Regions from separate parts of the Homo sapiens genome. Here region 2 is linked to region 1. Evidence: fine-mapped expression QTL. Tissue or cell type: whole blood. Region 1 holds a variant in brackets; the other region holds the start of a gene. All regions are shown on one strand. Distances are from middle to middle.

Evidence for each region. PIP is the estimated chance that this variant, and not a neighbour inherited with it, causes the effect. A credible set is the group of variants that fine-mapping cannot tell apart.
Region 2: it holds the start of RAPGEF3, and the variant in region 1 is the best candidate, but not a certain one, in a credible set for the expression of RAPGEF3 in whole blood (GTEx, PIP 0.89).

Annotation. Positions count from the first base shown.
Region 1 is chr12:47,712,180-47,714,935 of GRCh38, forward strand. ENDOU (endonuclease, poly(U) specific) reads right to left here. Exons shown (of 10, transcript NM_001172439.2): 7 at 1,096-1,209; 8 at 337-443. The region is part of intron 1 of RPAP3-DT (RPAP3 divergent transcript); the gene reads left to right. Among named protein-coding and RNA genes, the nearest start is that of RPAP3-DT, 7.5 kb to the left of the region's middle. The variant C/T (reference allele first, on the strand shown) is at 1,371.
Region 2 is chr12:47,757,546-47,760,301 of GRCh38, forward strand. It overlaps RAPGEF3 (Rap guanine nucleotide exchange factor 3), which reads right to left and starts at 1,335. Exons shown (of 28, transcript NM_001098531.4): 1 at 1,006-1,335; 2 at 321-533. The coding sequence starts at 1,011. It also overlaps a transcript of SLC48A1 not described here. RefSeq lists enhancers at 546-1,214, 1,215-1,883 and a silencer at 1,155-1,504.

The DNA of each region.
Region 1 (2,756 bases):
TGAAACTTTCAGCCACGTTCTAAGGAAACTGAGGCAGGGAGTAATTACATATCTTTGTTCTTCCCTCTGAGAATCCTCCCCAGGCCCCAGGCTCCCACCCCGATATGGTGCCTCCTGCCTCCTGTCCCCTGCAGTTCTAGAGCCTTCACTGTTTGGAAGGGAATTCCAGTGTCCTGGCTGGCTAAAGTGGCTGTCTAGCAGGTGAGGACGTGATAGTCACAATCACCTGGGGCTGCCCCCTGAGAGTCAGGCTGAGAGGCAAGTCGACAGTTTGGAACACAGAGTGAGAGCAGGATATCTGGGCTCTGACAAGGCTTTTCTAGTCCGTGTACTCACAGGCCCATCGTAGATGTGACTGTAATAGTCAACCAGACCCTCCTTCTCCTCCAGGTAGAAGCGGATCCAGTTATGGAAGCCAGTAACCTTGCCTTTTTTTACCTCACCTATAATAAAGAGTCCAAGATGGATAATCTGGGCTCCTTCCCCACCCTCCCCTCCAATCCCCTTTCTCCACCCCATGCCAAGGCTTCCCCCTTCTCCAGTCTCTGACTTCTAGCTGCTTGACCCCTTGCTGTGAGTCCCCAGAGTCTCTCACAGTCCTATCTCTCACCTCAGGAAGGCCCCCCTTCTGGCTCAAGCCCTTGGGAGAATCCTTCCTTCTGGTGATCCTGATGACCTCTCTCAGCCATTACTCCAGCAGCAAGCCAGGCTTGGTGGGAGTTTTATGGGGTAGAATAGGGGGGAACAGACCATGGCCCTCTTGGGAAGCAGCTGGCCAGGCCCTGGAAGCAAAGGACTGTTCAGAGGTAGGCAAACTTGCTCCCAGACACATGTCTTGTCCTAGATGTACCCCCTTGGGAGCCCCAGCATCTGGTCTTCTTTCCCCCTTAGGTACTCCAGAAAAGACTGTTTCTCAGAATGGCTCCTCAGACACCCCCCCGCCCCCCTGCCATATGGGCAGGGGAGAGTGCGTGGGTCCCTCCCTACTAGCTGGCTGGACTGCTGATTAATCCACACCCAGGGCTGCCCTGCTCCTGAGCAAAGCCATTCCTCTTCATCCCTCCAACTCTTTCTTTCCAAGAAAAGTGCTCCCACCTGAGAAGACATGTTCAAAGCCACTCGAGTCCCCCTCTTCATTGCCTCTTGAATAGAGCCCAAACCACATGTTCTTCAAGTCATCGACAAACTCTTGCTCTGAGCCATAGCGATCTGCAGAGGAACACAAAGGGTTTTGGAGAGGGGAGGCAGGGCCAGGTCCTGGGAGCGCTAAACAGAGACCTGAAGAGCTACTTGCTCCCACACGTCAAGAAACATGTGGGTTCAATCAACAAATGTGTTCGGCTGTTAATTCAATGATTATCTATGGGATG[C/T]CTATTTTGTGCCAAATCCAGATCTAAAGGCTGAGGATTCAGCTGGGAATAGCAAGGACACGGTCTCTATCTATATTACATTCCACTGGAGGAGTCAAATAATAAGTAAACAATAAGAAATATGATTTCAGATCAGTGCTATGAAGCAAAGTAGCCCGTAATGACGGGAAAGGGCTGGCACATAAGTTGGCGGGGGGGGGGGGTCTTCTAGAAAGGAACATCAGAAAGGCCTCTGTGAAAAGGTAGCACTGATCAGAGAGCTGAAGGATAAGGAACTTGCTACACAAAGATCTGTGGGGAAGATTCCTCCATGTAGAGGGAACTGCAAGAGCAAAGGCTCCAGGCAGACTTGAGTTTGCTACTCAAAGAACTAAAAGAAGTCAGTGAGGCTGGAGCAGGAGGGGAGAGTGGTAGGAGAGGAGGTTTGAGAAGCAGCCAAGGGTCAGATCCTTCAAGCCATGGCAAGAAGGTCAGGTCTCAGGCAAATAGAAATAAAACAAAAAATGTTTTAGATTTACTAATTGCTTTCTGTCCACCTAGTGCCTGCCATTTTAAGTGCTTTCAATGTAACACTGAATCCTCACGTTGAATCTTCATATAAGCTTGGTACTAATTATCCCCAACTTAGAAATGAAGAAACTGAGACGGACAAAGTATAAAACTCATGCAAGATCACAGTTAATGAAAGGTAGAGACAGCACTTGAGTCCACTCAGTCTAGCTCCAGAGACCAATCTCTTTAACAACTCTATAGCTTCTTGGTAGTGCAGAGCCACTGAAGGATTTTAAGCAGGGGAATTGTATGATAGGACCTTTTAAAAGATCACCCTGGCTGTGTATGTTAAAAAGGCAATGGGGTGGTATGAGTGGAAGCAGAGAGACCAGTCTTGAGGCTCATGCTTTGTCTACGTAAGAAGTTGATGGGGCTTAGATGGTGGTGTTAACTCCGGAGGAGGAGAGAGAAGCAGTAGGCCCAGGACATATTTTGAAGTGGGAGTGATGGACATTACATTACTGATGGAGGAGATGGGAGTAGGGAACTTTGAGGTAAAGAGAACAATTACATCTAACTACTAGGCTTTTGGCCTGAGCAACCGGATGGGTTATGCCCGCCATTTATGAAATGGGGAAGACCCAGAGAGGAGCAGGTATTTTTGATGGGAACCAAAAATTATTTCTACACTAGGTTCTGTGTGAATATCAGTTAGATAGCTAAGTGGAAGATGTTGAGAAGGCCCTTGGGAAAGTTCAGGGCTGGAGATTTCAATGAGGGAACCATCAAAGATTGACTGTTTACTGCCCACAATTTTATATGGTGAATACAAAAGAGATACCAGACATATTCCTTCCTTTCCAGGACTTAAAACACATTTGGAAAACAAGACTA
Region 2 (2,756 bases), 45 kb after region 1:
CCACCTGGAAAGAACACACAAGTACCTAACTCAATGCCGGCTCACTGAGGTGACAGATAAACAACAAATCCCTTTCCCCTTCCCCCCATGCCCAAACAGAGACATTTGGGCAGAACACACACACAGACACACACACGTTGCAGCTGTGTGAGCCACCCACGCACACTGCAGACAAGCTTCCTGACCCAGTGTCCACGGCAGCTGTACCACTGTACACCCCCAGAGCAAGCTGGGCCACCAGCAGCATGCCAAGCCATGATCTAGGCCCCCCTCTAGCTCTGGTACTGGCCCTGGCACCTGGGCAGGTGAAAGGTACTCACCCAGCGCAGCCCCTGGATGCAGCTCGGACGCTGGTGCTCCAGCAGCAGCTGGTAGGAGCAGCTTCGGGGCCGGTGCATCCTTCTCAACACCATGTTGAGTAGTGTCCCCTCCGGCACCACGTCAGGGAGGGCTCCCACCCGCGGTGCTCCCAGAGCTGGGCTATCCTCCACAGCCAGGCCCACCTGCCAGCAGCTCTCACCTGGCCAGCCCACCTGTGACACGGGGAGGAAAGTGGACAGCCATGGGACACGACTGGGGCGGCTGGGCCACAGTACAACTGCCCCAGGCAGAACTACTTCCTTAGAGTCCTCTGGACTGGTCAGGCGGAGGTGCTGCAACCCTGCCAGGAGCTGGGGGGAGGAACAGGAAGACCTTCACTGGGGCCTGCCGGTCTGGCGCACTTAGGGGTCTCCAGCTGGCTCTTGGAAAAGATCAGGCCCTTCTTAGTCCTCTTTGGAATTCTGTCCCATCTCACTGCCCATGCCCCTGCAGGGATCTCCACTACCTCCCAGTATGAAGCTATAGATTCACTAGGTCTCCCAGAAATGCAGCTTCGGCTTAAACCCTTCTCCTCTCCTCCTCAGCCCTGACTAACCCTCCCTCTCCCACCCAAACTCCCCACCGTGTCAGCTTCCTCTCCCGCCCTCTCCTGCTCCTCCTCAACCCTGACCCCACCTTACCCACCTTCATGTTTCTTTTCAAGCTCGCACAGCCGTGCAGGCTCTAGCAAAAGGCTGGGGGGTCCCCAGCGACCCCCATCAGCTTTGATAAGGGGATCCGGAGGGTGCCAGTGGGTAAGTCCAGGTACAGTGAACTGGGCCAGTGCCTAGCTGGACTGGCTGCCAGGGCAGCAGGATGCAGGGCTCGGTGGAGAGGCTCCTCTTGGGTGAGTAGAGGGGTGGGGGCGTGGTGGGGGGACGCCACCCAGCCACCGGCGACAGGGAGCCCCGAGCCTGCGCCTTCGTCTCAGACGAAGGAGCCAGCTGGCACCGGGCGCTGAAGCAAGGCTGCGCTGGCACCGGTCCGGGCGGGAGCTGTCACACCCCCTGCGCTGCCCGCCCCCTTCCCCTCCCCAGGACTGGCGGAGGGGGCGGGGTGGAGGCGCCCTGCCTTACGGTAGAGGAATGCGTAGGGGAAGGGGGCCGGCACTGGCAGGCTTTGGAGTCCGCACCCGGGGGTACCAGAGTGGACATCCGCCTGAGCCCAGAGTATCCCCAGGGGGCAGGAGCGGCCCCGAAGTGTGTGGAGGAGGCCGCAACGGCCGGGGTGTCAGGGATCCGGCGGTGAGTGGCTGCACTGGCCGCCACGTGGCCGGGAGGAGAAATGCAAACAAGGAAACCGGGGAGAGCGGGGAGGGGGTGAGTCACTGCGGCCTCACCCGGGAGGGAAATCCGGGCTGGGGCCGCTTCCCGGCTGGGGGTGTCTGCCTCCTGTTTCGGTTCAGGGTCTCCAGCCGCCCGGGGGAGGGAATAGGCGGCTTTCCCGCGGGGAATCCCGCTGCCTTGCCTCCCACAGTTCCGTTCCCAGACCCACGCCCCACTGCCCCCTGCCCCAGCACACACACACCGGGAGCAGTTGAGGAAACTGAGGCTGGAGAGGAAGGACTGCTCTCCAGAACGGGTAGGGGCCCTAAGAGGAGATTGGGGTTGTGGCAGAGCTTCCAGGGGAGCAGAAGGTGTTCGAGTACCACGCCCCCTACCGCGCGCTCCCTGGTGGCCGGGTAGGTTGAGGCGGAGACCGGGCATTCCAGCGCCCTGCTAGGCAGGCTTGCTACCGAGGCTCCACGCCTCCCTGGGCCTCAGTTTCCACCACTGTGCAAATGGCCCAGCGCGGGCCTCTTCGCCCCACTCCTGAGAGGGTGGAGAGACAGTGGCCGGGGACAGCGACCCGTAATTCAGGACGATAATGAGGGTTTGGAAGGAGGTGAACGCCCCACCCCCAGCTTTTTAGGACTTTTTGCCCCTTCTCTTCCCTTTTCCCTTTGCTGTTGAGCCAGCCCAGACTGGGAAGAAGTATCTCTAAAAAGCCTATACCCCAATTTTGGGATGCCAAGCCCGCATCCTCCACCATGATTATTTTCTTGAAAGTGAGGAGAAGACTGGGAAGAGGTAGCTCTAAGAAGCCTATACTCCCAATTTTGGGATGCCAAGCCCCCATCCTCCACCAATTATTATTTTCTTGAAAGTGGGGAGAGAAATTTTAATTGTGATTAAAATCCCATTTTTAATGTATACATGTATAAAAAATGTTTCCCAGAAGCTTACTAAAATGCAGGCTCCGTCCCCAGCAATTCATATTCAATCCTATTGGCATGAAATGGAAAATCTGTATTTGGAACAAACACCCCAGGTCATCTGCTGTGTCCACACATTAAGAAACGCTGGTGGAGTTTTAAATGCCTCTCCGGGGAAGGAGGAAAGCCTGAGAATGAATCT